Regions from separate parts of the Homo sapiens genome. Here all the other regions are reported to be linked to region 3. Evidence: microRNA targets listed by miRTarBase, many of them from high-throughput screens and not tested one by one. Region 3 holds a microRNA gene; each other region holds the end of a gene's coding sequence.

What was found. Region 3 holds the annotated microRNA hsa-miR-8062 (CAGUGAUUUGAGGAUUAUUGC, at 4,623-4,643, shown strand). A microRNA usually pairs through its seed, bases 2 to 8, with sites in the 3' UTR of a target mRNA and lowers its output. Matches are read on the target gene's strand: a 7mer-m8 pairs with bases 2 to 8, a 7mer-A1 pairs with bases 2 to 7 and ends in A, and an 8mer does both.
Region 1: the mRNA of FBRSL1 is a reported target of hsa-miR-8062. Seed matches in the 3' UTR shown: 7mer-m8 at 6,035-6,041.
Region 2: miRTarBase lists DARS2 as a target of hsa-miR-8062. The part of its 3' UTR that is shown has no 7-base or 8-base seed match.
Region 4: miRTarBase lists RPP14 as a target of hsa-miR-8062. Seed matches in the 3' UTR shown: 7mer-m8 at 1,881-1,887.

Annotation. Positions count from the first base shown.
Region 1 is chr12:132,583,231-132,590,894 of GRCh38, reverse strand. FBRSL1 (fibrosin like 1) reads right to left here. Exons shown (of 19, transcript NM_001367871.1): 19 at 5,707-7,664. The coding sequence ends at 7,117. Among named protein-coding and RNA genes, the nearest start is that of MIR6763, 5.1 kb to the right of the region's middle.
Region 2 is chr1:173,857,295-173,865,034 of GRCh38, reverse strand. DARS2 (aspartyl-tRNA synthetase 2, mitochondrial) reads right to left here. Exons shown (of 17, transcript NM_018122.5): 17 at 6,489-7,517. The coding sequence ends at 7,330. It overlaps GAS5-AS1 (GAS5 antisense RNA 1), which reads right to left and starts at 1,787. Exons shown (of 1, transcript NR_037605.1): 1 at 1,094-1,787. It overlaps GAS5 (growth arrest specific 5), which reads left to right. Exons shown (of 12, transcript NR_002578.4): 9 at 331-360; 10 at 529-551; 11 at 731-778; 12 at 960-1,134. It overlaps SNORD81 (small nucleolar RNA, C/D box 81), which reads left to right and starts at 813; the gene lies at 813-889. It also overlaps SNORD47 and SNORD80. RefSeq lists silencers at 2,307-2,436, 3,484-3,634 and enhancers at 2,688-3,404, 3,405-4,121.
Region 3 is chr20:7,366,996-7,374,769 of GRCh38, forward strand. MIR8062 (microRNA 8062) reads left to right here and starts at 4,613; the gene lies at 4,613-4,697. It overlaps LINC01706 (long intergenic non-protein coding RNA 1706), which reads left to right. Exons shown (of 3, transcript NR_110610.1): 3 at 285-1,506.
Region 4 is chr3:58,316,896-58,324,605 of GRCh38, forward strand. RPP14 (ribonuclease P/MRP subunit p14) reads left to right here. Exons shown (of 6, transcript NM_007042.6): 5 at 20-98; 6 at 545-3,298. The coding sequence ends at 601. HTD2 (hydroxyacyl-thioester dehydratase type 2) reads left to right here. Exons shown (of 5, transcript NM_001348712.2): 4 at 20-98; 5 at 545-3,298. The coding sequence starts at 719. The coding sequence ends at 1,225. Among named protein-coding and RNA genes, the nearest start is that of PXK, 12 kb to the right of the region's middle. RefSeq lists an enhancer at 5,088-5,849.

The sequences.
Region 1 (7,664 bases), not on the chromosome of region 3:
GGAGTGGCTGCTTTCCTGATCACTCATGGATTCTTTTGCTTGTGACAAGGAACATGCATCAGTCCTATAATTTCTTTTTCTAAAATCTAGGCTGGCGCAGTGGCTCACGCCTGTACTCCCAGGACTTTGGGAGGCCAGGGTGGGTGGATCACCTGAGGTCAGAAGTTTGAGACCAGCCTGGCCAACATGGCAAAACCCTGTCTCTATTAAAAAATACAAAATTAGGCCGGGTGTGGTGGCTCACGCCTGTAATCCCAGCACTTTGAGAGGCCGAGGCTGGCGGATCATGAGGTTAGGAGGTGGAGACCATCCTGGCCAACATGGTGAAACCCCGTCTCTAATAAAATACAAAAAATTAGCCAGGCGTGGTGGTGGGCACCTGTAATCTCAGCTACTGCCTGTAATCTCAGCTACTTGGGAGGCTGAGGCAGGAGAATCGCTTGAATGTGGGAGGCGGAGGTTGCAGTGAGCCGAGATTGCGCCACTGCACTCCAGCCGGGGTGACAGGGCGAGATTCTGTCTCCAAAAAAAAAATTTTAGAACAAAAATGTAAAGGAGGGAAATCCCAACAGTTGAGTTGCTGTTTCCATTTACACGTTGAACTTGATGAGCAGGGGTGCCAGATCTGCTTCTCTGGGGCAGAAACAGGAGCCGTGAGTGTCAGGCCCAGGGACCATGCAGCCTCTGGGCCGCCCAGGTGCAGACACCTGGCCCCTGCTTGGTCAACTCAGCCCTCGAGCCTCTTCCTGACTAGGAGGCAGCCGTGTCCTGGTGGCCTCCCTAGTGGCAGGGTGGGGGGACAGGCGGTCACAATCCTCAGCCGCAAGCCGCTGCAGGATTACGAGATGTGGTTCTGACCCTCCCTGCCCCCAGAACCCTCCGGCCTGGCGGCTGGATGCTGAGCCTCTCGTGGGGCTGGGGTGAGGTTTCCAGGGGGCCACACGGGCTCAGCTGTTTCCATGAGGCCTCTTTTCCTGTTTGCTGCTGTGTTCAGCAAGGCCACATCCATCCCCCCGAACCCTGTCGAAGGGGACCCTGTTCAGCTCCGAGCAGCCCCGAGACCACCCAGGAAGGAAGGAATTGGGGTCAGTGTGAGGCAGTCGGTCTGAAGCCTTCATGGTAAATATTTTATGATGCTTTCTTTTCTATCTAGAAATGAAATTCAGTTCTTAAAAGCTTCACATATAATTTTAGGGAAAAAATATCTAAGGCCCCCAAATATATAAGCCCCAAACTGTGGTATAACAGAAAAATAAAAATAATTTATAGTAAAATGTTGTGGATTTGAAGTCCATGAAGGTCTCAGGTGTGCGGATGCCGGATGTAAAATGACCTTCAGGTTTCCCAAAGGCCCCTGGGTTAGTCCAGCTCCCACCAAGAACCTGGGCCCTTAGCCAGCAGGCCAGGTGCGGCCCACCTCCCCTGCCCTGTTGACGAGGGGTGCAGGCCCCCCAGTGTCAGCCGATGACACCTCAGCAGAGACCCTCTGGTGGTGAGGGGGAACCCTGGGGAGGCCCTGTCTTTCCAGACAAGGTTGGCACTCACCATCTCCCCTTCACTGATCTCTCTCCTTGGCAGGTGGATGTAATGCCTGGAGCTACAGCAGCTATTTCATAACTATGAGGCAATGAGCAAGGAAAGGCCAAGAGAATCACAGAAATGCCAGGCCTGACTCAAGCTCCTGCAGCACCTCCTGAACCTCTGCCTCCAGAACACGTGTCCTGTGGGAAAACCCTGTGTGTTGACAGCGTCGTGGTCATAGATCCTGTACTTGCAGGCACACTCCTTTCTCTCTGGGCCTTCCCCAGCGTGTAGAGCCTGTTGGACACAAGAGCACTGGCCACTGGCCTCTCCCAGCAGCGCCATGTGCCCTTGGGCTGTGGATAGGATCCCAGCCGACGCTGCAGAGAACTCAGCGTTGTCAGCTGTGAATACTTACAGCCTGCGTCAAGATCCTTGAATTCCAGGTTCCCGTCAGTGGTAGGAAGATCTCCATGGCACGATCTCTGGAACCTGCGAGTACGTCACCTAGAAGGCCACGTCTGAGCAAATGTGATTAAAGTAAGGATGTGGAGGCTGTGCAGCTTTCCTGGATTACCCAGGTAGAGTGTAAACGCAGACTAGTCCTCACGAGAGAGCAGGGGAAGCCCCGACACAGAGGTGGCCACCTGAGGACAAGGCACGGAGAACAGGCTAGTTTGGACACCCAGGGCATTCCAGGGTCCATGCCTGTCCTGGGACTCCACTCCCTTGCTGGTGAGGGGTCCAGGCATTGCCAGGAGGAGCCCAGCAGGGCGTCTGGGAGGCTTCCTCCTTCTTCGGTGCCTTTGCCCGTCCAGGACACACCTGGCCCCTGTTGCGTGCCAGGCCCTGAGTCTCGTAGTAACAGAATGGACTTTGATGCTGTTCCTCTCTCTCCTGGGCTGGCCAGGAGTCACTGCAGCTGCTTGACAAATGTCACCCAGGTTGAGTGTTTTTAAAACCCTGTATCTATTCTATGAAGGATAGAATGTTAAAACATATATTAAAACCTTTATTTTTCTGTCAACATCAGATGTACTTCCATTTGCCTGACCGCATCTTTCAGGTCTTGTTGAAATAAAGTAGAATTTCAACTCCTGATTTTTACAGCAGGGTCAGTCTTACCCAAGTTCTAAGTTACCCAGGTTCCAAGTTTTACAGGAGGGTAACTTAGCCCAAGTTCTAAGTTACCAGGTGAGATGGAAATAGCCTGACCAAAATCCTCCAGGGCCAGGGGGTGGGTTGCTTGGACTGCTGACCTTCTGAGCTGTGTGCCCCCTCACAGTGTTTCCAGGAGCGTGTACCCTCACAGAATGCTCCCGGGAAGGGGCTCCTCCTCACAGAGTGCTCCCAGGAGGGTGCTCCCTCACAGAGTACTCCCAGGAAGGTGCCCCTCCTCACAGAGTGCTCCCAGGAGGGTGCTCCCTCACAGAGTGCTCCCAGGAGGGTGCTCCCTCACAGAGTGCTCCCAGGAAGGTGCCCCTCCTCACAGAGTGCTCCCAGGAGGGTGCTCCCTCACGAATGCTCCCAAGAAGGTACTCTTATCACAGAGTGCTCCCAGGAGTGTACCCCCCACAGAGTGCTCCTGGGAAGAAGTCTACCTTGGATTCTGCACCATCAGAGATTACTCCCCTCAAGGATGATGCCTGGGGAGGGATGGCTGCCTCAGTGCCAGGGCTGGCCCTACATTGGAAGGCAGCCCAGAGGGACTGCCTGGATGGGGTCCCCTCCCCCCTTCTCTGTGCCTCAATGCAGGCTGTGTGCTTTGACTTAAAGGCGGACATTTCACCATTTCACTCCTTCACATGGCATCCCTGGGCTCGCAGGTAGTTCTGGCCAGCGGATGGCCCTGGAGTGCTGCCCACCCTCCAGCTGCCCACCCTCCAGCTGCACTGCCGTCCTCCCTCCAGCCGCACTGCCGTCCTCCCTCCAGCCGCACTGCCGTCCTCCCTTCAGCTGCACTGCCGTCCTCCCTCCAGCTGCACTGCCACCCTCCCTCCAGCTGCACTGCCGTCCTCCCTCCAGCTGCACTGCTGTCCACCCTCCAGCTGCTGCCCTCCCTCCAGTCACACTGCTGTCCTCCCTCCAGCCACACTGCTCTCTACCCTCCAGCCGCACTGCCGCCCTCCCTCCAGCCGCACTGCCACCCTCCCTCCAGCTGCACTGCCGTCCTCCAGCCACACTGCAGTCCTCCCTCCAGCCGCACTGCCGTCCACCCTCCAGCCGCACTGCCGTCCACCCTCCAGCTGCACTGCCGCCCTCCCTCCAGCTGCACTGCCGCCCTCCCTCCAGCCGCACTGCTGCCCTCCCTCCAGCCGCACTGCCGTCCACCCTCCAGCTGCCGTCCTCCCTCCAGCCGCACTGCCGCCCTCCCTCCAGCCGCACTGCTGACCACCTTCCAGCTGCGCTTTACAGGTATGTTCCCAGATCTCTGGGGCCACAGGGCTGGGCCCTGGCCCTGCCTCCTCCTCGCCGCTGGGCCCTGGCCCTGCCTCCTCCTCGCCGCTGGGCCCTGGCCCTGCCTCCTCCTCGCCGCTGGGTCCTGGCCTTGCCTCCTACTCGCTGCTGGGCTGCCCTGCAGGGGCCTTGGGGCTTTGGGTCAGACCAGCCCCAGGGCAGAGCAGGCCTGTGTGGGTGACTAACACAATCAGCTCACTCAGGGCAGAATATGCATTCCTGGGGTCTTCCTGAAGATTAGATGCATAGGTTGGAATAACCAAGACAAGGGGACGTGAAGCATAGCCATGTGCCGTCCAGCCGCGCTGTGGGAAAGGGCAGGCTGCATAGGCAGGGGCGGCCCTAGAAGATTAGAATGCTGGATTCTTTTCTTTCTGTCTTTTTTTTGAGACAGAGTCTCCCTCTGTCTCCCAGGCTGGAGTACAGTGGTGCCATCTCAGCTCACCGCAACCTCTGCCTCCTGGGTTAAAGCGATTCTCTTGCCTCAGCTGGGATTACAGGCGAGCGCCACCACGCCCGGCTAATTTTTTGTATTTTTAGTAGAGATGGGGTTTCACCATGTTGGTCAGGCTAGTCTCAAACTCCTGATCTCAGGTGATCTGCCCACCTCAGCCTCCCAAAGTGCTGGGATTATAGGCGTGAGCCATCACGTCTGGCCAGAATGCTGCATTCTTACTGTACCTTTTCATGCGCCGGGTTACAGCTGCCGATGGGATTCAGGAGTCACATGGGGTGCAGCCCAGGAGCAATAGGCTGCCCCATCCAGGTGTGTGCCACGCGCTGTGATATTCACACAGTGGCAAAATCGCATGACACATTTCCCAGTGTCTCCCCATCGCTAAGTGGCAGCTCACCGTAAAGGCTGAAGCCCAAGTTGGGACACACAGGCCTGCAGGGTGGTGGGGCTGACTCCATAGGAAGCAAACCCTTATATAGAAGCCCCACATGGCAGATGGTCCAGGCCCCAGACAATGACCTGGTGGGGCGTGGATTGGGACCTGCCCCTCCTGCCAGCCTGGAAGGGTCTTGTGGGACGCAGGGCACTCCTTGCTGGGCGCGCGGTGGGCCCACGAGGCCTCCTTCTTAGGTTGCAGCCCTGGGGCCCCTTAGTGAGGAGTGAATTGGCAGGGACAGGGTGGGGGTGACACTCAGGTCAAGGCCAGGTGTGCACCTGGAGCTTTCCTGACCATCACTCAAGGCAGGTGGGCCTGGCGCTCACTGCACTGGAGGGTGGGGGCTGCCACCTCTGCACCTGGCTCCTGCCCTCTGAGCTCCTGTTCCTTCGGGCACAGCCAGGGCAAAGCCAATCCCACAAGTCCCTGCGGGGCCAGAACTCTCTGGCACAAAGGCGGGAACTAAGAGCACCTTCTATGCAGAAAACCCCGTGGATGTGAGGGAAGGCGGCCAGCGGGGTCGCTGGGGGTGGGACGACGGGAGGCCGCGTGACACCCCCAAGAACGAAGGAGCACAATGGGGCATCCGGCAGAGCCAGGAGCTGGGGTTTCCACCGGGAGAGGTGGCACTGGGGGAGGGGGCTGGGCAGAGCCGGGGTGGCAGCAGGGCTGGGAAGCTGGGACCTGCTGTGCTTCACTTCCGGGGCGATGGCACCGGACAGCGTGGGGCCGCCGAGGCGCCCAGCATCCCAAGGTGCTGCAGGAGGGACGCACGGCTGCAGGGGTCAGCCTGGGTGAGCCTGGCCCCCCAACACCACAGAACACGCGACCACAGTTTCATCCAAATCAAGGCTGTATTTATCGTCACTGATTGACATGGGAACAGAATATTTAAAACAAACAGGGTCCACCGTGGAAATGTGGCTGAAACACAGAACTGAGCAAAGCAAGTGGCTCGACGGCTGACCCCGAAGGCTGGGAATCCCGGCAGGGACACAGCCCAGACATCGGGGAACACAAAAGGCCGCAAGGGGGGCAGGGCATGGGGGGGCTCATGTGGGTGAGGGCAAAACCCAAACTGAGAGGAGGCCAGGCCAAGGGCCTGGGAGGCGACGACCACACCGAGGTGACGCTGATGCCTCAGGCGGAAGAAAACACACAGCAGTGATTTTGTGTGTGTGTGTGTGTGTGTGTGTGTGTGTGTAAAATCAGCCTTTAGACTCTTGCACTTCTATACCTCCACCGATCTGGTCTACAGATTCCAAGAACACTGCACCATCCACACAAACGTCCACAGCATCGCCCTTGCGGCTGGAGCCGGCCAGTCCTGAAGCCCACAGGAGCCGCCCAGGAGTGCTGTTCTGCTGGCCCAGGGGCTCTGCTGGGGGACCCAACCCCTCCACGGACCCAGGGGCTGGGAGGTCGCTGGCGGAACCTTCCTCCCCCAACCAGCAGAGCCGCCGGGAAGCGCTTGCATAGTTGAAGGAAAGTTGCTGCCATTAAACTTCTGATAATGTTTACAGCCAGCAGCGCCTGGGTTTTTGTGACCATGTTAGACAAACAACCAGAGGGGTTTCTGGAAACGGTTTTTATAAAGTCTATCTAGATTAAGAATTTAGTAACGTCATATATTTATATCAACAGACTATTTACACGTTTCGTTTGCTTTTAAAAAAACAAACCAAAAAAGAAATTACACTTCTGCATAATAAGGCAAAAAAACAAAGTTTTGTACATTATTATTTTAATATAATCTGTAACTTCGGTTCCAAGTACCAAGGGGGGGCCAGGGCTGGCCTGAGTGGGGGCCTCACAGTGCGCTGGACAAAGTGACCGGTTTTTCTCCATAAATAAGACAAAGAAACCCTGGGGATCTGGAGAAGGATCTGAGGCCATTAAACTGCAAATCCCAACCGAAAACGAAGAAGCAAAAGTTTCTTTTTTGGTTCTTTTAAACGTCTAAAGAGCATAAAATTAAGAAAAATACAAATCCATTACAAACACTTCTCATCTGTGGGGGGAAAAGGTACAAACGCGATTTTTTTTTCCCAACAGCCGAATCCCAAACTCGGAAAACAAAAGATCACCCTCAGAAAAGCCGACACCCAAGTCCCCGCCTCCGCAGGCTGCGGGTGGAGAGGCGGCGCCGCCCCAGGATCGGCGGGAGCTGTGCTTGAGTTCTAGGAACTGATGGAGAGACGGACAGCGGTGCGCTCCGCTCGGAGAGGCGTCTGCGGCCCCGGGGCTACCGCGCCTCCACCTCCGGGGGATTTCGGGACGGGGAGTAGTCGCGCGCCTCGCCCGGCCCGAGGCCCCCCAGCGGAGTAGTCCGGCTCCGCGGCGGCCCGGGGGGCGTGGGGGGCCCGGCCGCCGTCACCAGGGGGGGCGGTGCGCCGAGGGCGGCGGCGGCGGGCGGGGTCCGCGCCAGGAGCCCATTGTGCAGCGCGGCGGGCGAGAGGCGCGGGAAGTGCAGGGCTCCCAGCGAGGGCAGCAGCGCGCCGTCCAAGGCGGGGGCGGCGGGCGGCAGGTGCGGGGCCCGCGCGCGCTCCAGCTCCCCGCGCAGGCGCTCGGGGCTGTAGCCGTGGGGCTCGCGGTCGCGGTAGGGGCGCTCCGGGGGCTCCAAGAGGGCGGCGGAGCCCGGGGCGGGGGCGGCAGCGGGGAAGGCGCGACGTGGCAGCTCCAGGCCGCGGAAAGGCTCCCACGCGAAGCCCGGCGCGCCCAGGCGCTCGCGGCCCAGGCCGAGCTGCAGGGGCGCGGGGTGCAGGCCGCCCGCCGGGGGCTCGGAGGCCTCGT
Region 2 (7,740 bases), not on the chromosome of region 3:
TTGTCCAGGCTGGTCTCGAACTCTTGACCTCAAGTGATACTGCCCGCACTGACCTCCCAAAGTGCTGGGATTACAGGCGTGAGCCACCATGCCCCGCCTCAAGTCTGGTTTTTAAGTGTTGTAAAGCCGATACAATGATGATAACATAGTTCAGCAGACTAACGCTGATGAGCAATATTAAGTCTTTCGCTCCTATCTGATGTATCTGGCGGTAACATTCTAGTTTATGCCCCGAAAAGGGGAATATAGCCATTCTATAATGTTTGGAGATTTTGGATTACTCCTAATTGTATGCAAGTTGTCTTACTGTGTATTGTCCCTTAATTTCAGGACTCAGAATTCATGATTGAAGAAATGCAGGTTAGTTTAAACTTTGAAGGAAATTTTTAAGGTGGCAAAAGGTTTTGGTGGCATATACACCTTAATCTGTAGATGGGAGTGATTAGCTGTTTAAAAGTTAAAATGTGACTGAGAAGGAAATTGAGTAGGGCAAATTTTAAATGGGTATTATTTTTCATCTTCAAACAGGCAGACCTGTTATCCTAAACTAGGTGAGTCAGCTTTTGGTACATGTGATGATTTTCAGTGTAACCAATGATGTAATGATTCTGCCAAATGAAATATAATGATATCACTGTAAAACCGTTCCATTTTGATTCTGAGGTTACTCTACTAACAAGCATCACACATTTGTATTTTGCCCTGATTAATATGTTGGCTTCGCTTTCAGGGTTTTTAATGACCACAACAAGCAAGCATGCAGCTTACTGCTTGAAAGGTGAGGATTGGAAATGTTGGGACTATTATAATTGCAGAATACATGATGATCTCAATCCAACTTGAACTCTCTCACTGATTACTTGATGACAATAAAATATCTGATATTCTGCATTCCCATGTAGCATTTTAATTGAAGTCTGTAAATGTGGCTAAAAGTCTTGTCTTATTTTTTGAGACAGGGTCTTGCCTCACCCAAGCTAGAGTGCAGTGGCCTTTGAAGCTTACTACAGCCTCAAACTTCTGGGCTCAAGTGATCCTCAGCCTCCCAGTGGTCTTTGTAGACTGCCTGATGGAGTCTCATGGCACAAGAAGATTAAAACAGTGTCTCCAATTTTAATAAATTTTTGCAATCCATCTGGAGTGTGTAGTGTTTACTTAAAAAAGGACAGTGCTTTTCATCTGTTCATTAGCTGTAAGCATAAATCACATTCAAAAGCTATTATAACTCCATGGTATTTGCTTCATTAACACTGCAGCCAGTTAAAATTTTATGGGTATTTTACAAGGTGTCTTATGCATTAAAGTGCAATATTTCCTAATTCTCCATATGAGCAAATTGTCAGGTTTCATAGGCCCCTGTGCTAATTGGTTTTGAGCTTAAAGTATTGATGGAGCTACTTGGAGAAAGTCATGTTGAGTCTGAGGCTGGGAAAATAAGTTATAGAAAATACTATAGAAATGCCCAACTAGTGATAGGCATTAATGGAATTGGGAAAATCTACAATCCATAGCCATGGTGATAGGTTTTTGGCAAGCACTAAGTGTTTAGGGATGCCAAAAGTGGGTATAAAGGGCACAACTGGTTTAAGGCAATCTGTCCCAGGGAAACAGGACCAAGGGGCCAAAATTCCAAGATGGGTCAAATTTTAATTTCAGTGTCAGTACAGCTGTGCTTATAATGATGTCTTTGTTAGCAGTAATGGTTTTACAAATCTGTTTCTGGGCTAAAGCACTTTAGTCCCATTAATGATAAAACTTCAGTTACTCTCTGAATTTTCCTTTTTTTGAGACTGAATCCTGTTGCCCAGGCTGGAGTGCAATGGCATGATCTCAACCGCTGCTCACTGCAACCTCTACCTCCCGGGTTCAAGCGATTCTCTTCAGCCTCTTGTAGCTAGGACTATAGGCACCTACCATCACAACCAACTCATTTTGGTATTTTTAGTAGAGACGAAACCCCATCCTCCCAAAGTGCTGGGATTTCACAGGCCTGAGCCGCAGTGCCCGGCCTCCCAGGCCTTTTATGCTTGATGTTTTTTTCAGGGCCCTTCCCATTGTCATTTCACAATCTCATTGAAATGTCAGCTTATGCACTAAATGCGTGTAAGTTGGGAATGCCCAATTTTGTCTAAGAAAAAAGGCCTCCCCCTCCCCCAAATAAGCACATTCTTTCATTTCCTGGGGCTCACCCGAATGTCTCACACAGGCTGTAAAACAACTACCACCACCTGGCTGGGTGCTGAGGTGGGCAGATTACCTGAGGTCAGGATTTCAAGACCAACCTGGCCAATATGGTGAAACCCCATCTCTACTAAAAATACAAAAATCTAGCCGGGTGTAGTGGTGGGCTATTGTAGTCCCAGCTATTCGGGAGGCTGAGGCAGGGGAACTGAACCTGGGAGGCTGAGGTTGCAGTGACCCGTGATCCTGCCACTGCACTCCAGCCTGGGTGCCAGGGTGAGACTTTCTCAAAGGAAAAAAGAAGGCTGGGCGTGGTGGTTCATGCCTGTAATCCCACCACTTTGGGAGGCCGAGGCGGGTGGATCACACGGTCAGGAGTTTGAGACCAGCCTGACCAACATAGTGAAACCCCCATCTCTACTAAAAATACAAAAGTTAGCCAGGTGTGGCGTGCACCTGTAATCCCAGCTACTCAGGAGGCTGAGGCAGGAGAATTGCTTGAACCTAGGAAGTGGAGGTTGCAGTGAACTGAGATCATGCCACCGCACTCCAGCCTGGGCAACGGCGAGACTTGGTCTCAAAAAAAAACACACACACAAAACTACCACCACCTACCCCAATCGGTTACCCTTTACTTTTCATGTGACCACCATGACCTATTATGTGTTTTGTTCTTACTTCCCCCACAAGAATGTAAGCGCTTCAAGTTTATTCCTTAATGTTGGAAAAATGAATGAAACTGCAAATGTAGTAGATCAGTTTTTGGGGAGGTACCAAAGACAAGTTGGTAAAATACCTTGATTTTGAAGTGAAAAACGATGTTACATTTCAAAGTATCTTTTCGCCAGGTTATGGCTCAGGCTTCGAGACCAGCCTGGCCAACATGGCAAAACCCGGTCTCTACTGAAAAAAAGCGAAAATTAGCCGGGTGTGGTAGTGTGGGCCTGTAGTCCCAGCTACTCTGAACCCTGGAGGTGGAGGTTGCAGTGAACCAAGATCGTGCCACCTCACTCCAGCCTGGGCCTCCTAGGCTCAAGTGATTGTTGTGCCTCAACTACCTGAGTAGCTGGGATGACAGGTGTGTGCCACCACTCCCAGCTAATTTTTTTTTCTGTATTTTTAGTAGAGATGGAGTTTCACCATGTCAGCCAGGCTAGTCTTGAACTCCTGGCCTCAAGTGATCCAACTGCCCTGCCCTCCCAAAGTGCTGGGATTACAGGTGTGAGCCACTGCATCCAGCCAAGTTCTATTCTTTTTTTTTTTTTTTTTGAGACGGAGTTTCGCTCGTGTTGCCCAGGCTGGAATGTAGCGGCGCAATCTTGGCTCACTGCAACCTCCACCTCCCAGGTTCAAGCGATTCTCCTGCCTCAGCCTTCCAAGTAGCTGGGATTACAGGCGTGGGCCACCATGCCTGGCTATTTTTGTATTTTTAGTAGAGAGGGGGTTTCACCACGTTGGCCAGGCTGGTCTCGAACTCCTGACCTCGTGATCTGCCCACCTAGCCTCCCAAAGTGCTGGGATTACAGGCGTGAGCCACCGCATCCAGCTTCTTGTTCTCTCTTTTATATATAAGTGCCATTTGCTGAATCAGAAAACTTTTTGACAAGCATATTAAAAGATTTCAGTTGTATGTAGTAGCTCATGCCTGTAATCCCAACACTTTGGGAAACCAAGGTGGGGGGATTGCTTGAGTCCAGGAGTTCAAGACCGGCCTGGGCAACATAGTGAGACCCTGTGTCTACAATTAAAAAAAAAAAGAAAAAAAAAGTGAGCCGGGCATGATGGTGCATGCCTGTAGTCCCAACCACTCATGAGACTGAGGTGGGACGATCGCTTGAGCCCAGGAGGTTGAGGATGCAGTGAGCTGTGTCACACCACTGGATTCCAGCCTGGGTGACAGGGTGAGATGTTGTCTCAAATAAAATATTAAAAATTGGATCACCTTATTCAGCATTCTGTTGTTTAGCAGTTTTGGAATTTTAGTTGTTAGTAAATCTTGACCTTGAGTACACGTTATTTTGATATTCTGTGTGACAAAATGGGAAGTATGCATGAAGCACATCTGCCATAAAGTATGGATGTCTAGATTTTTTTTTCCCTAGAAAAAGTAGTTACAATTGTTTGAGATACAAGCTGAACTAGCTGCTTGTTTTCACAGAACATTTTTAGTTTGAAAAAACCTGACAAATTGATTATTCATATTTTAGGGGTAATTTTGGCAGAGATTTGCTCAAAAAAGAACAAGTCAGCTTGGAAAAAACTGATGGCATTTGTTGCCAATGATAAAACTCAAGCTTCCAAATGAAACCTAAAATTTTGGAAGGCTTGTATACACTTCTGTGCCCTTATAGCTTCCTCAGACTTAGACTTTTGTAATGGGATTGGTGGTAATATTAATTAATGGTATTTTGTTTTAGATATTGTATATCAAAATGTGTCAACATTTGGAAGATTTGCATAACTCAGTGAACCAATATTTTCCAAATGATCAATCACTGGACTGGTGTTACAAATATCACACATAGGTAAAAGTTCTATTTAAATACAAGGTACACCAATGGACTTTAGAAAAGCTCATCAATACGATTTCAGAATCCACATTGCAACTAGCCTTTAAGGAACTCTACTACTTGTCATATTTTGGTGTGGTATCAAAGAGAGTATCCATAATTATCAGACAAAGCTATTAAAATACTCCTCCCTTTTCCAACTTTATATATGAGTGGGGTCAGATTTTCTTCACAGACTTCAACCAAAACAGCATATAACAACAGATAGGATACAGAAGCAGATATCAGAATCTAGTGTCTTCTATTAAGCCAGAAATAAAAAATATTTGCAGAAATATAAAACAATGTTACTCTTCTATTTTTTTTTTGAAAATAATTATTTTTAAAATAAAAACATGGCTGAGTGTGGTGGCTCACGCCTTTGTAATCCCAGAACTTTGGGAGGCTGAGGCAGGCGGATCACCTGAGGCCAGGAGCTTGAGACCAGCCTGGTCAACATGGCAAAACCTCGTCTCTACTAAAAATACAAAAATTAACCAGGTGTGGTGGAGGGCACCTGTGGTCCCAACTACTCAGGAGGCTGAGGCAGGAAAACTGCCTGAACCCGGGAGGTGGAGGATGAAGTGAGCCAAGATCGCACCATTGCACTCCAGCCTGGGCAACAGAGTGAGACTCTGTCTCAAAATAAAATAAAATAAAAACATGCTATTTGTGTTAACATGTAATGGGTTATTTTAAAATGAATTTAACATTTTAAACTAAATCATTAAATCAATTATTAATTAATTAAATAGGAGGCTGAGGCAGGAGAATCACTTGAACCCAGGAGGTGGAGGTTGCAGTGAGCCAAGATGGTGCCACTGCACTCTAACCTGGGCAAAAGAGCGAGACTCTGTCTCAAAAAAAAAAAAGGTATAAATCAAAAGAATTTCAAGGCAGAAGTGAAGACTGAGTAGAAGAAAACAATTTCAAAATCACTGATCAAGACCTTGTTCTCATTTTGTCTTTTTTTGAAATGGAGTCTTGTTCTGTTGCCAGGCTGGAGTGCAGTGGTGTAACCTCGGCTCACTGCAATCTCCACCTCCTGGGTTCAAGTGATTCTCCTGCCTCAGCCTCCTGAGTAGCTGGGACTACAGGTATGTGCCACCACACCCAGCTAATTTTTGTATTTTTAGTAGAGATGGGGTTTCACCATGTTGGCCAGGATGGTCTCAGTCTCTTGACCTTGTGATCTGTCTGCCTCAGCCTCCCAAAGTGCTGGGATTATAGGCGTGAGCCACTGTACCCGGCCTCATTTTATAATTATTAGTTTATTAAAACTTTTATGTGTATGATTAGAACTTAAAATCACAATGAGTTTTGGTGTTCACTTTTTCGCACATTTGAGGTTAATCTAAGGTTGATTAGAATTTTCAATTACTTATAATTGAGAGAAAATAGTGTTCAGTGATTAATAATATCTTTGTTGTCTTTTTTTTTTTGAGATGGAGTCTTGCTCTGTCACCCAGGCTGGAGTGTAATGGCACCATCTTGGCTCACTGCAACCTCCATCTCCCAGGTTCAAGCAAACCTCATGCCTCAGCCTCCCGAGTGGCTGCGATTACAGGCATGCGCCACCATGCCTGGCTAATTTTTGTGTTTTTAGTAGAGACGGTTTCACTATGTTGGCCAGGCTGGTGTTGAACTCCTGACCTCAAGTGATCCACCCACCTCAATCTCCCAAAGTGCTGGGATTACAGGTGTGAGCCACCACTCCCGGCCAATAATATCTTTAAAACTAAAAAAAAAAACAGAAAATTGATAAGTAAAATGACTTTTACTATTGATATCAGTTTTGTTTAATCTGAAACTATAAAATAGAGATATATCTACCTATTTATGGATGGATAATACCATCATCTCATATTTGTGGAATGCTTTATAGTTTTTCAAAGTACTTTTATTCACTTTATCTTCCATATATGTTATCTCCTCTGATTCCAGCAATAACAGCCCGGTGAGGTAGCCAGGGCAAGTATGTATTTTACACATTAGCAGGAAGGGAGGCTAAGCGAGGTTTATGTAACTTACTCAGGCTGAAACACTGAAGAAAAATTTGTGACTCTCATTTCAGTGATGTTTTCTGCATTATTAAAAAATATTATGCTACTCCTCACTATATTATGTTGATGGTTGAAATGTCATTATAAAGCTTAATTTATATGATTCTCTTGATGAGGATGATGAAGCAAATGCTCCATCAACTCACTAGTTTACAGGGGCAAGCATTTTCCTACATTTCACACATAATTTGATTACCTCTGTCCTAAGTGAATAATCTACTATCTGGGTATGAGAAACATGATTTGAAAACACTAAACCACTATATTATTTCAACAAAGAACCATCTTTCACACCTAAGTAAAAAGGAACTTCAAAAAAAGTCCTAACCAAAAAAAATCCAAATGATGCATGAAATCAAGTCAAAATTGGGTATCTTTTATCTGTTTCTTCGTTGTGGTGAAGAATGTTGCCTGGATTCCTTCCATCTAAAGACTTGATTGTTAGACCTGTGGCAGAACTCTAGATCTGACTTTAGCCTTGGGGAAGCAAAGAGGACAAAACCTAAAAGCTCAACTTTCTGCATGGTATGCATGATTCAATGAGCTCTTTCTGCTTTGGAGTCTGTTGGCTTGGAGACTCGGATATGATAGGGCTTCAGTTCCTCAGGAGGGACAGAATCTGGGGTATTGCTCATGAGGTCATGTCCCCGGAAGGACTTTGGGAAGGCTATGACATCTCTGATGCTTGGAGATCCAGTGACAAGGCATATCAGTCTGTCTAACCCTGTGAGTAAAATACAAAGATAACAGATGAGAAATGTAATCTAATGTTGGAAATAACTTAGTTTTTCTATAAAAGTTGTAGAAAACTTTTAAATAAGAATCTTTAACAAACTGTAGCCAACCATCGTTCCCTACCTTTTTAGAGAACTTTTGTTTGTTTGAGAGGTTCTTTTCTATCTCATTCTGGAAAAGTATTCAGGACTAATGTTCACATGCTACTTGGA
Region 3 (7,774 bases):
TGAAAATTTAGTGGATTTTCCCTGTGTAATTATTACAAATATTTCCTGTGACAGTGATATATCATGTAAGAGACTTATAGATAAAACACAAATAACTACTGAAACAAGTAAATTTTTAAAAAATCATTTTGAATCTATAACACAAATATACTACTTTCTAACAAAAGACTACACTAGACCATCTTGTTCTTTAAACATGTATGTTGTTCCTGATTCTTGGAAAAAAATATTTATTAGAATCTATCAATATACAAAACTTAAAAGGTATTTATTATCCTTGGCAGGGCCTTCAAGAGGATCAATATTTCCAGGATGTTGGTATTAGCATCCATTGTTCGCTGGCTAGATCTTTTCCAACAGAGCATGTGACTCTCATCATTACAGCAGAGGAATGCATTTATCAAAGTTAAGGAAGTCGTTTGCCATTCGGATGGCCCAAGAAGCATAAATATTTATCATTGAGCCTTGTGAGAACTCTCTATTATAAAAAGATTGGCTAATTTCTTAAAACTACTCCTTCAATAAGGACCCAGGTTATGTGCCATGGTATCTGTAGCTTTCTGGCTGGGTCAGGGTGACCCGCACACAACCCTGGCAGGACGCCCTTGGACACAGTATTTGCATCCCTTTGGTGTGCCAAGGTATCAAGCATTCACAGTTCACATTGAAACCACTAAACGAAGAGCTGTGCAAACAGGTCATCAGTTTCTCCAGAGGGGAATAATCTTACAACTGTTACGAAGGGTCAAAGGTAACTTTCATTTTGAGATGCTAATTACTCCAAGAATTTGATGCAGGAGGCAGCTGGTTAAAATGAATGAGTGCTGAAGCGTTGAAGGGGAAAATCAAATAGATGGTTATAATAAAAGTGCAATATGCAACCTAATAAGTATGCAGAGAATAAGGGACAATATTGTTAATAAACATCTATTAGTCAAGATGATCTTTGTAGAGCTGGGCTCTTTAATATTATAACTGCTAATCACATGCAATTAAATTTAAATTTAAGGTGGTTGAGATTAGAAATTCAGGTCCTCAGCCACAGAGGCCACATACAACATGTTCAATAGCCACATGTGGCCATTGGCTACCATATTGGAGAGCCCAGATATAGAACAGTTTCATTACTGCAGAAATTTCTATAGGACAGCAATGACCTGGAGTGTTTTGCTATTGGAGGGGTTTTGGACTTAGTGCTTTTATATAGGAAACATGATTTTTTTAAAGAAGCCATCCCATGGAATGCTTCTCTCATTCCAGTGCTGTAGTAAGGGTTGCCCTGAAATTTGGACCTAGAAAATTCACTTATCATAAACGAAAAAACTGTTACTACTATCAATAATATTTTTGTCCTGGTGAATATTTACATTGTACCACACACTGTGCTAGTTGCTTTATACATATTGTGTCATTTAATTCTTACCTTAGAGACTAAGATCTATCTGTGAATTACTTTGAGATAAATCAGGTTAAGAGAAAAATAAAAACTGACTTTAGACCACAATTAAGTAAATATATTTAAACCTAAAGCAATTATTGCTCTTTGAGAGAGAGAGAGAGAGAGTGTGTGTGTGTGTGTGTGTGTGTGTGTGTGTATGTGTATAACTGGCAGCCCATTGTTACTGAGATAACTACACAGAATTAAGCAATAAACTCTGCCAGAGCCTGGGATATAAGGACAGGAATAAAGACGATTATCAGAGACACGGGAAAGAAAGAGAAAGTGAGAGGTATTTGAAGATTCACTAAAGAGGCTGAGATTTAGTAGAAATAGTTGAGAAGCCTCAGAAATTTGGTTGTAAGATCCAGGCAAGCATGGAGAAAGGCTGCACTTTAGAGATTTGTGGGTTCCCAGGCTAACTCCAGAAAAGAGGATTAGGGCAGCAAGACTGATGCTGAAACCACCAAATGGTCATATTAACATCCGAGTTTCCTTCCAAGATCCAGTGCATAGATGAAAGGATTTAAGAACATGAGGTTGGATGTGGATTGCTCCTTTCAAAGACTTGGACAAAAGAAAAGTCACAGCCTCTTAATTTCTCTCAGTGAACCTCAGCCTAGCCATTAAATTTCAGAGGAAGCAGATGGCACACATTCAATGTTCTGGGATATGACTGTACACAGTCAGACTAAGAAAAGGTCACAAAGATGTAAAAAAAATAAGTGTTTTACATCAAGATGGTTGGTAATGAAAATACCCTATCCTACTCAGTTTATAGTAAATCGCTTCTATATAGAGTAATTTATTAAAATCTCAGAACATTAAGAATTACCAAGTCTTGATTTATTGCAGAAAATTTTGCCATGGTGTTTCCATTTAGAAACTTATTTCTTATCTTACACAAAGTAAAAAAACAATCTCTTTAGCACCTGGTATTATTAGTGAGGTATAACTGGGGTGACAATATAATTTATTATCCAAATAGAGACACTTTTGAGAATGAATGTAATTGTTTATAATTACAGCAAAACCACAGGTGTAAACTAGAACTGTCCAAGGCAAATCAGGGCAAACCAACAACCTAGGTATAGACCACAGCTGGATGCAATTGGACTCAAGCCATTTTCCCAGTCCAGCTGCTGAGTGTGACTCAAAGGCTACTCTGCTGTCAGCTGATTTACAAGCTGATTGAAATAATGATGCAAAGGCACAATGATGAAGATGTCCAACACCCATTTTAGGTAAAAATAACTAGTGTAAAGAAAAATACCATTGATCATTGTTGTTGAGTTTTTATTTTTAAAGAAACAGTGACTTGATAAAATACATCCAAGAAAAAAGAGTCTGATAACCAATCTCTACTCAGCATAGGAGGGCATTTCTCTTCAATTTTTAAAATAATAAATTAAAATAAATACTATCTTTAAGGTACTAAAGATAGCAAGGTTAGATATACTAGTTCAGCTAATCTACATTCCCACCAACAGTATAAAAGTGTTCCTGTTTCTCCACAGCCTTACCAACATCTGTTGTTTCTTAACTTTTTAATAATTGCCATTCTGACTGGCGTGAGATGATATGTCATTATAGTTTTGATTTGCATTTCTCTAATTATCAGTGATGTTGAGCTTTTTTTCATATGTTTATGGGCCACAGAAATGTCTTCTTTTGAGCAGTGTCTGTTCATGTTTTTTTGTCCACTTTTTAATCGGTTTTCTTGTAAATTTGTTTGAATTCCTGTAGATTCTGAATATTAGACTTTGTCAGATGAATAGATAGCAAAGATTTTCTCACATTTCCCCTTACTGGGTATAAACCCAAAGGAATATAAATCTTTCCATTATAAAGACACATGCACACATATGTTCATTGCAGCACTATTCACAATAGCAAACACATAAAATCAACCCAAATGCTCATCAGTGATAGACTGGATAAAGAAAATATGGTACATTTACTCCATGGAATACAATGCAGCCATAAAAAGGAATGAGATCCTGTGTTTTGCAAGGACATGGGCAGAGCTGAAGCCATTATCCTTAGCAAACTAATGCAGAAACAGAAAACCAAACACAGCATGTCCTCACTGATAAGTGGGAGATGAACAATGTGAGCACATAGACACAGGGAGGTGAACAACACACACTGGGGCCTTTTGGGGGTGTGGAGGGAGGGAGTGCATCAGAAGAAAAAGCTAATGAATGCTGGGCTTAATACCTAGGTGATGGGTTGATAGGTGCAGCAAATCACTATGGAACATGTTTACCTATGTAACAAACTTGCACATCCTTCACATGTACACCGGAACTTAAAAAAAAAGAAGATATACTAGTTAAGGTGTATCCTTAGGCATTAGAAGAACTTGGAGATTGAGGTGCACTACTGGTATTCAGTGAGTAGGACCTAGAGTTGTAGATGTTCTACAATGTGCGGAATAGTCTCACACAATGAAGAATGAACCTGGTCTTATGTGACATTCATGTGGGTGAAAAACATATTTATATATTAAGCCTAAAACTTAAATTCATTTTACATATAAATACAAAGTATCTCTTTTACACTGTATTAATAGCAACTACCAGACACATTGAGAAAATATATTCTTTATTTTGTTTGGCAATTTCTCAATAATTTTTTGCTATTTCAGAAAATCACATCACAGAAGGCAACCCTAGTCATTATTTTTAGTAGCTACACAACATATCTACATCTGTAACTGACATTTAAGGTGATCCTATGAATGAGTATAAGCATGACAACTTAATTATATCTTCCAATGTAGTTATGTCCAAACATTGACATGTTGAAATACTTATTTTATCATAAATTATTTTCCTCTTAATTTCATTTGCAATTTATTTTTACAATATAATTAGACCATTATATTGACTTAAAGATAAGTATGTGGGTAGTTTATATTATCTATGGATTTCATTTTAGAGTAGTAAAGGCTGTGTTATAAAATATCTTATATAATTAGTGGCCTGATAGGGCTGTGGAGCAGGGCTCCAAGGCAGTGCTATTTCAATGAGGTCTCAGAATTGGCAGCAGAGAGCTTGTTAAAAATGCAGATTCTTGGACTCCACCCCAGACCAACAGAATCACACTCTCTCATGCAGCATCCCAGTGATATGTGATTTATCAAGCCTTCCAGGTGATTCTTCTGCTGCTCTTATGCATGCAGTGATTTGAGGATTATTGCTCACGGTAAGAAAAACATGAGTAATATATTGTCTTCAAAGAACCTATGCTCTAACAGGAGATGTAAAGATATCTTTCTACTTGAGTTGGATGAGTAAGAAAATCACAGGGATCATGATCACCAAAAACACAATAGAAATTTGGCAATAACCTAATTCCAGAGACTATACACTAAACATGACATATCAATAGCAAAAAGCTGGATTCAGAGACAAGTTTAAACCACACAACTCTGATTAAAATGAACAGGACTCATGCTGTTAAGACTCTGTACAGTTCTAAAAACATACACAGCAGAGCACTTAAGCCGTTCCAGAACACATCATTCTCTACTTTTTAACAGGGAGCAAACAGCTGGGATGTGTTACTAGTAAGCCATGTTTTCATAGGCTTTCTGGTTTTCTTTAGCCAAACTCTTACAACAGTCTTCGGACAAATTATTGCCTGAAGCTATAGGAAGTCTTTAGTTGTCTTGGAGAACTGCAGAGTAAGTCAGGTCTCAAAGACAACATGCCCACAAGGACTTGCCTTGCCACCTTTGGCCTTTCCACCTTGGAAATGCCTTCACAACCAATTACACTATTCTCAAATGTCTGTTTATTTTTAATGACTCTAGTTAAATGTTAAGAGTTATTCCGATGACCTAGTTCAAGACTCTAAGAAAAAAAGCTTAGACAAATCAATAGACTAAACTGGGAGGCTTGCAAAGAAATGAACAAGAATCTAATCAATATCTTAACAAAAGACCAACAAATGGTTGAATTCTTGTAGGCCTGCATGGTTCTGAGGCCGACCTTGCTTTTCAAAAGACATTAAAGAGTTCAATATGGAAGCAGTGTTGTGAGAAATCACTTTCTCTTTCTAGATACTCTCATGTCCACTTTTGCTCTGGGAAATGTGTGTGTGTGTGTGTGTGCGTGTGTCTTGTTTTTCTAAATTGTCAGTACAGTGAAATAGTTGTCATGGGTTCACCAAAACAATTTTCAGAGATTTTCTTTCTGAATTTTGTTGGGAAAAGTCCTGAAACATTCCCTCCACTTCCACACACAAAAAGGCAGCCTCCCTAAGGTTCTTCCTTAGGTTCCCCCGGCACCTACATGGGTATCGGCAAACATTATTGAATCTCAACAAGCACATTTATTTCAGATTCTACACATGAAGGGTTTTCAAAATACTCTTCCGTACCCATGGTTCATAAGCCCATGGTCCAGAACATCTAGTGTCTATTTTTATAGCCCACAGGCAATTGCTACAGCTGTATAACCCTATTGAGAATGAGAAAGGGAGAATGTCACTAATTCTTTTGATATCTTAGGATGCAAATGTCTATGTGCTAATGTCATCTGCATAAAAGTATATACTCCCCACTTCACTTTGGCTGAAGGCAACTACACATTAATGGTTACATCCCCTTTTGTACTAAGAGCTACTCAAGGAAACATTTAGCAACAGGTGGTCCTAGCTGCACTTAAACCTTTCCCCTAGGGAACAACACACGCTTATACTGTACATTCCCAGGCCAGTAAACCCATGACAAAGTTATAACTCCCAGTAGTCAGCTCATTTAGGTTTATGCAATAGAATCCATCCTCTTTTTTGGGAATGGAAAATGTATTCCTTTCTGAAAAAGAGTACAGTATAATAGAAGGCATGGGAAAAAATCATTCAAAATTTACAGATTTGGGAGATAATAAAAATTCTACCAATGATCAACTTTGGAATTTACAGTAATAACTTAAGATTTCTGCTCATTAACAGTGTCAGCATGTATAAAAATTAAGAGGTTTAAGAATCTTAGAAGCCCTGTGAAAGGAATTTAGAAAGTGCAAAGATACATGCATTTGAATAAAAATTTGGCGCTTGTCAGACCATGTTTTTTTTATTGATTTTTACAGGGTAGATATGATCAAAATATTAAGAGTCATGGGATAAAATTTCTCTAAGGAAACTTTATCACCATAATAATCATTGAGAACTTCTATAAGTCAACATACTGTGTAAGGCTTTTGAAATACGTAAATAGATAATACGTAAACCCTGAACAGCATACTGTTTCATGGCTTTTTTTTTTTTTTTTTGAGACATGGTCTCAATCTGTTGCCCAGACTGGAGTGCAATGGTGCTTACTGCAACCTCTGCCTCCCAGGCTTAAGCAATTCTCCTGCCTCAGCCTCCTAAGTAGCTGGGATTACAGGCGCGCACCACTGCGCCCGGCTAATTTTTGTATTTTTAGTAGAGACGGGGTTTCACCATGTTGGCCAGGATGATCTTGAACTCCTGAACTCAAATGATCCACCCCCTTGGCCTACCAAAGTACTGGGACTATAGGAATGAACCACTGTGCCAGGCCACAGATGACTCTTATTTGCCGAATTCAGTACATCACTTAGGAGCACCTGTATCCTTTGAGAGTTTATTACAAATGCAGCATCTCAGGCCTCATCCAAGTCCTCTGCAACCAAAATGTGCATTTTGACAAGATCATGATTTATATATATGTTAAAGGTTGAGAAGTTCTGGTCTGTAACACTCAATATTTCCACTTCAACCTTCTAAACTAAAGAATTGTGTGACTTGACCTGTCTTCTAAAGAAGCCTTCACTTTAGTGTCATTACCTTTGTCTTCATAAAATATTCTGTTTTTTTAATAATCATTTAGAAAAATCCAATAAAACAAAACTACAGTCATTTGTTGCTAAATGAGGGGGATAATACCTCCTGAGGAATGTGCAGTTGGGTAATTTTTGCCCTTGTATGAACATCCTAAAGTGTACTTACACAAATCTAGATGTACTTCTAGGCTATATGGTATAGTCTCTTGCTCCTAAGCCATAAACGTGTATAGCATGTTTCTGTACTGAATACTGTAGGCAACTGTAACACAATGGTAAGTATTTGTGTATCTAAGCATATCTAAACATAGGTAATGTTCAGTAAAAATACTGTCTTATAATCTCATGGGATCATCATTGTATATGAAGTCCATCATTGACCTAAATGTTGTTATGAGGCACATGATTGTGAATTGCAAGCAAAAAAAATCTACCTTCTTATTTCTGTATCTAAACATTTGTGTGTTTAATTTGTTCAGTTACAGGATCACATTGATATCCCTAGCCTAGCATTATTGTT
Region 4 (7,710 bases), not on the chromosome of region 3:
TTTCTTGATCTTTCTGCAGTGGTCTTGTCAAATTGTGGAGCTCTTTGACCCTGTTAGGATCCTATAAAGGCAAAAAATGTGCTTTCCGGGTGATTCAGGTAAAGACTATTCCCTCACATATTCCAAACAAGACTGAGTGATGGGTCAACTGCTTCTTAATATACACAACTCATTTTTGTGCTTGCATAAATGTAATATGGTTAAAATGATCTAAGTAGGGGAAAATAAAGGACTTGATTGTTTCCAAAAATGTGAGACAGAGCACTTAGATTTTAAAATCTATGGGAGATGTTTTGGGATAAAACTTGCAACCCTGTGGTTAAGGCTTACTTTTTTTATTTAACACTTAATGCCTTGTGTGTTATATATTGGTACGCTCTTTTTGAGATGTGACCACTTGTTATCGAAGGCTTCCTCTCAGGATGCTCTGTAAAATGCTCCTGCATCAGCTTTGTTTATCCTGTAAAACTGGGCATGTTTCCCCATTGCCCTGTGCTTCAGTGTGGTTTCTCCCAATGCCTTAACCTTTTTCTTTCTCTTCTAGGTTTCTCCATTTCTTCTTGCATTATCTGGTAATAGTAGGGAACTAGTATTGGATTGAATGAATAGTCTTCCATTTTGGAAACGTTCATCCACTCTCATATTTATTTTTTGGTGCCTGCATGTTTGAAGACTGAAGCAGGCTAAAAGCTCTTGATGAAATTTGAGGGTGCTGAAGATGTTCCCACTAATTTCCAGCCATCACCTTTGGTGGGGTGGGCTTCGGAGGACAGTCTGTCTGAACCTGCCAGTGCTGACCCTGCAGCACTTTCAGCATATGCACATCAAAGTTGGAGACCGCGCTGAACTTAGGAGGGCCTTCACACAGACTGATGTGGCTACCTTCTCAGAATTAACAGGGGATGTCAATCCTTTGCATTTGAATGAAGACTTTGCAAAACACACCAAGTTTGGAAATACAATTGTACATGGAGTTTTGATCAACGGACTTATCTCAGCTCTCCTAGGAACTAAAATGCCAGGGCCAGGCTGTGTATTTCTTTCCCAGGAAATTAGCTTTCCAGCCCCTTTATATATTGGAGAAGTTGTTTTAGCTTCTGCAGAAGTGAAAAAGCTGAAGCGGTTCATTGCTATTATTGCAGTGTCATGTTCTGTAATAGAAAGTAAAAAGACTGTTATGGAAGGCTGGGTTAAAGTTATGGTTCCAGAAGCTTCCAAATCCTGAAATAGATGTTTTAAAGATGCAACCTCAAACACCAATGCTGTTGTTAAAGAGCCTATGGGGAATTGCTGCTCTTTACCAAAGAATGGTTGATAGGCCCAGAAGCCCATCTTAGTTAGGGGAAGGGAGCAGGAAGAGGGTTGTTCAAATGCCCACTTTCCAGTTTGGCCTTATGCTTCATGCAGACTTGAGTGTATGCAGGATTTCATTATCTGCCTGGGTTTTTTGTTTGTTTTTTGTTTTTTAATTCAAGAAGTAGGCTGGGCCCGGTGGCTCATGCCTGTAATCCTGGCACTTTGGGAGGCTGCGGCAGGCGGATCACTTGAGGTCAGGAGTCCAAGACCAGCCTGGCCAACATGGTGAAACCCCATCTCTACCAAAAAAAAAAAAAAAAAAAAAGTGCAACTAGCTGTGCTTGGTGACTTGGCCCTGTAGTCCCAGTTGCTTGGGAGGCTGAGGTGGGAGAATTGCTTGGGCCTGAGAGCTGGAGGTTATGGTGAGAAACTGAGATTGCACCACTGCACTGTAGCCTGAGTGACAGAGCGAGACCCTGTCTCAAGAAAGAAGTATTGGGAAGGTTATTTAAAGACTCTACTTTTAAATCAGGCGTGGCAGCTCACGCCTGTAATCCCAGCATTTTGGGAGGCTGAGGCAGGCGAATCACTTGAGGTCAGGAGTTCAAGACCAGCCTGGCCAACATGTGAAACCCCATCTCTACTAAAAATACAAAAACTAACCGGGCATGGTGGCGGGCACCTGTAATCCCAGCTACTTGGGAGGCTGAGGCAGGAGAATCTCTTGAACCTGGGAGGTTGCAGTGAGCTGAAATCACACCACTGCACTTCAGCCTGGGTGACAGAGCAAAACTCCACCTCAAAAAAAAAAAAAAGATTCTACTTTTAGAAATTCAGACCTAGATAGATTTGCATTTGGATAACAAATCCCTACCTATAGCCATGTGGAAGCAGCTTGTCACTGTATTTTAACTGTGTAACAATTATTGAAGGCGAAAATAGAAGTTGGGTCATCTTTGAACACCTACCTTTTATCAATGAATATTTTTAGACTGTTCTTCAGTATCTGAGTCAGAGTTTATTGTAATTTGTTATTTACACCAAGGTGGCATCTTAGTCTACCTTCAGTGAGACTTGCGTTTCAGGGGAGGGGCGTATGTGCATCCTCGGTCTCAGTTATGTAAACGGTCTGATCTGTAAAATAGTGGTAGCACATGCCATGTGGGATAGTTGGTGGAGATGATAGATGGAGTTAAGCACAGGGCCCAGCCTGTCAGCAGTAGCTACTATTATTGTTGCCCATTTCCCCTGCAACTGAGGTGAGAGGTTTTCCTGAGTTTGAAGCTGACTGGCCCACAGTTAAACGTAACAGACCAGTTTTTCAGGGTGTCAGCCAACCTCTATTAGTGTTCTTAAGTACAGTTTCTGTTATAAAAGTTCAGATTATTCCTTGAAAATTTGGATCTACCTCCCATTATTATGAGTAATACATGCTTATAGTAAAAAAAAAAAAATTGTAAGAAATAAATATTAAGAAGATTATGGAGGCCAAATTCTTAAGACTTTGGGGGCTGGGGTCAGGGAGGTTATATTGAAGGGGAGATGTGCCTAACATGTTACTACTAAATGGCCATCCCAACACAGCCAACACTTTTGTTTCCCATTTTTTTTTGTTTCCCGTTTTTTAATAAAATTGAGATATAATTCACATACCATAAAATTCACCTTTTAAAAGTGTACAGTTTAGTGGTTTTCAGAATATCCACAAAGTTGTACAACCATCACCAAATCAATTTTTTATAGCATTTTTCATCACCCCCAAAAGAACCTCCCATTAGCAGTCAATCCATTTCTCTCCTCCAGTCTTTGGGAATCACCAGTCTACTTTCTGTCTCTATGGGTTTCCCTGTTCTGGACATTTCATAAAAGTTCATACAATGTATGATCCTTTGGAACTGGCTTCTTTGATATAGCATGTTTTCAGGGTTCATCCATGTTACAGCATGTATCAGTACATCATTTTATTTTATGGCTGAATAATATTCCATTGTATTTACCCATACATCAGTTGATATTTGGATTATTTTCGCTTTTGGGCTGTTAAAAATAATGTTATGAACATTATAGAAGAGGTTTTTATGTGCACAGGTTTTAAATATATATATATATATATATTTTCTTTTTTTCTTTTTTGAGATGGAGTCTTGCTCTGTCGCCCAGGCTGGAGTGCAGTGGTGCGATCCCAGCTCACTGCAAGCTCCTCCTCCTGGGTTCAGGCCATTCTCCTGCCTCAGCCTCCCAAGTAGCTGGGACTACAGGCGCCTGCAACCACGCCCGGCTAATTTTTTGTATTTTTAATAGAGACGGGGTTTCACCGTGTTAACCGGGATGGTCTCGATCTCCTGACCTCGTGATCTGCCTGCCTCGGCCTCCCAAAGTGCTGGGATTACAGGCGTTAGCCATTGCGCCTGGCCGACAGGTTTTAAATTCTAGGAGTGGAATTGCTGGATCATGTAACTTTAATATTATAAAGAATTGTCAAATTGTTGTTCAAATTACTATTGGGCATGAGGTGGTATCTCATTGTAGTTATGATTTCCATTTCTCTAATGTCAGCCAACACATTCAAGACAATCTATGACAGAATTTTTAATTTTTACCCAGAGAGCAGCTGAACAGACAACTAGAAAGAATTATTCTAGGCCAGGCGTGGTGGCTCATGCCTGTAATTCTCAGCACTTTGGGAGGCCAAGGCAGGCGGATCACGAGGTCGAGGTCAAGAGATTGAGACCATCCTGGCCATCATGATGAAACCCCATCTCTACTAAGAATACAAAAAAATTAACTGGGTGTGGTGGTGCGTGCCTGTAATCCCAGCTACTCGGAGGCTGAGGCAGGAAGATTGCTTGAACTGGGAGGTGGAGGTTGCATTGAGCTGAGATCGTGCCCCTGCACTCTAGCCTGGGCAACAGAGCGAGACTCCGTCTCAAAAAAAAAAAAAATTATTCTAGTCGCTAGAGGGCAGTGTTGTGTATAAAGTTAGTACTTTAAAACTTTAATACTGTATTATACCATATACTAGTTTTCTAAGGTGGAAGACAAGACCAAAATCAATGTGGGGAGCAAGGATACTGTTCTTGTGAGTTTCAGAATGTGCAGCATGTGCAGGCTGAGATCCACTTGAAGAAGACATTTATAGGTGAATCACTAGACATGCTGAAAATGTGTTCAAATGGCAAAACAAAATGGGGAACATGCACAAATATACGGACTTGAGGCCAGGACTGCTTGCTCCTGCAGAACTCATTCCCTGGGATTTAGCAGCAGTCTTAAAGTTAGGTCCATAACTGGATTGGGATGTGATCATTGATACTGATAGCCACCATTTTTTCAATGCCTGATGAGTTGATTTTCTACATTAATGCTAATCCTTGAAACAACTGTGTGAAGTTAACATTATCCTGTTTTTAAGTAGGATAACTGACTTGCCCAAGGTTGTTCAGCGAATAAGCAGTACAGCTGGGATTCAAACTTGGGCCTGCCTGGCTCCAAAGCCTTTCCTTTTTCCATCACTCTGTGGGTCTTAGGTTCCTGTAGGAACCAAGGGGAAACTTCCCCTTTGCCCTCTGAAGGTTCACTGAAAAATCAACTGAGAAAAGGCAAATTAATTGGAGAAAAGGCATACCAATATATTAGCTTGCATGAAGGGGAGAGCTACAGAGTGATTACCCCCCAAACCCCCACCCAATAGGGTTTAGAAGCTTAAATACCACCTAAAGGTTACAAAAAGAGTGTGGGCTCGGATCAGTGGCATAACATGTTCGGGGAGCTGGAGAAGGGGAAGCCTGGCTAGCAAAGGTGGTCTTGTTATGTAAATGAAGCCCCACAGGTGGCAGCCCTCAAAAGAATAGATGGTAAATGTTTTAGACCTTTTTTGTTGTATGAGACAGAGTCTCGCTCTTATTGCCCAGGCTGGATTGCAATGGCACGATCTTGGTTCACTGTGGCCTCCGCCTCCCGGGTTCAAGCGATTCTCTTGGCCTCAGCCTCCCAAGTAGCTGGGATTACAGGCATGTGCCACCATGCCCAGCTAAATTTTGTATTTTTAGTGGAGATGGGGTTTCACCATGTTGGCCAGGCTGGTTTCGAACTCCTGACCTCAGGTGATCTGGCCTCCTCGGCCTCCCAAAGTGCTGGGATTACAGATGTGAGCCACCATGTCCAGCATGTTTCAGACCTTTAAAGTGTCAGACTAAGTTAATCTTCCCGAGATCCAGACAAGGGAAGGCCTGGCTGCATCAAGCAGATTCTCTGCAAATGCAAGTTTTCTCCAAAAAAGACAGCTTTGCAGGGCTGCTTCTTTTGGCTCTCTGAACAGCCATCTGAAAATATGACAAATATATTTTGGGGTGAAATATTTTTATTTCCCTCATTCGTGTTGCTGGAACTGGAGCACTGTCAGTTTCTATAATGGCATCTTACATGGCATTAAAATAATTGGAATCATTCTATAGCAATCTTTTTGCTTTCGGAATGTTCTAGATCTTATTCCCCGCTAGAGTTGTAGCGTTTTCCTAATACTATTAGTTGAAAGTCTTCCACCCATGCATATCACCTACACATTTTCTAAGCCGACATTCAGTGATTATTTGTCTTCACCGAAGAATGGCTTAAAGGGTTAAAGATGAAAAATATAGGGTACGGAAGGGATGTCAGATCTGAATGATAGTTGATTTATACTGTGTAACTTTCAAAAGTAGCTACTCAATGTGAGCATTTCCACTGTTTTTTTTTTTGTTTGTTTTCTGAGACAGAGTCTCACTCTGTCTCCCAGGCTGGAGTTGCAGTGGTGCAATGACTGCAGCACCTCCTGGGCTTACACAATCCTGCCTCAGCCTCCTATATAGCAGAGAACAGAGGTGCACACCACCATATCTGGCTTATTTTTTGATTTTTTGCAGAGATGAGGTCTCACTTTGTTGCCCAGGCTAGTCTCAAACTCCTGGGCTCAAGCAATCCTCCCACCTTGGCTTCCCAAAGTGCTGGGATTACAGGCATGAGCCACTGTGCTCAGCCTTCATGTTCACTTTTTTAAAATGTATGTATTTTTTATAGAGATGTGGGTCTCACTGTGTCGCCCAGGTTGTCTCGAACTCCTGGTCTCAAGCGATACTCCTGCTTTGGCCTCCCAAAATGCTGGAATGAGCCTCTGCATACAGAGTTCCACATTTTTATGCTCCCTGAGTCATGGTCTTTGAAATCTATAAATCAATAAAGGTTGGAAACAGAGAAGTAGACAAGAAGTTATCAGTACTTCTCTTTAGTAACTTGTCATTTTTATCCAGAGTCAAGATTCTCAAACCACACGTGCTTTGTTAAAGCTGGCTATAAGGAAAACTGGTTGCTTGGCTTTTTCATTGAGTCTATACAAACTGCTCAAAAGAATGACTCTTAATGAAAGCCTGAGTGACCCTCAAATTAGGAAATTCTCTCCCAGATAATTGAGAAGTGGCCTTGACTGTACCAGGTCACACATGGAAATAAGTACAAAAGTAATGACTAAAATAGGCCAAGTTGACCGAGCACTTTGTACATAGGGGTATTATACGACTGCAAATTGTGTGATGTTTAATTGTCACAGAAAGAGATACTCGTTTTAAGCACTTTTAGCCTAATGTACTGGAAAATTGCTTAATGGATTTTTATACTCTATTGGAAACATTTCCATATTGGTGAAATGCCACTCATTCCTTTTTCTGAGGAGCAAATCTTGAGTAGCAATGGGAAGAAAGCCTGGCAACAGCCACCATTTGTCTTGTGGACCTGACATGCTTATTCACCTAGAAAAAGAAGAAATTGCTAAATGCACACTGATACCTCTTAGGTAACCACAGGTTTTCATTTTGTGCTGAATTATTAGTCATTTTTCCTTTATGTTTTTAGAGTATGATTCAGAGACCAATTTATTCCCAAAGAAAATTGCCATTACATCTACTAAGTTTTCATATTAAAACATTTTCTACCAAGGGATGACTGTCACTCTGAGCAACTGTGCCACTGTGAATGCCTCATGTGTCAGCATAGCTTATTATCTAGCTCTGAGCAGAATGGGAGTGCTGCTGAATTAGTCTTGGTCCACAGGTATCTCCAGTGTCCCAGATGTTTCACCTCCTTTGTTCTTATCTTTGCTTTTATTTTGGGTTACAAACACAGCAGATAAATTAATTCTCAGCATCTTCAGAGAAACTGTGGGTTAGAGCAGAATCACCAACTAGAAGAAACCATTTAAATTCAAAAATCATAAGGAACCCAGAACCAATGTTAACACTGCATAAATACAACAAGATTAATAGGAGGCCCCACAGTTAATTCCTAAGGTGGTTCTTAGCTGTAAAGCAATTCAAATGACCTTCTTATAAACCCTGGGCAAAAGTCCCCTGTGATGTGGTGGAAAATATCAACACGTAAAGGAAA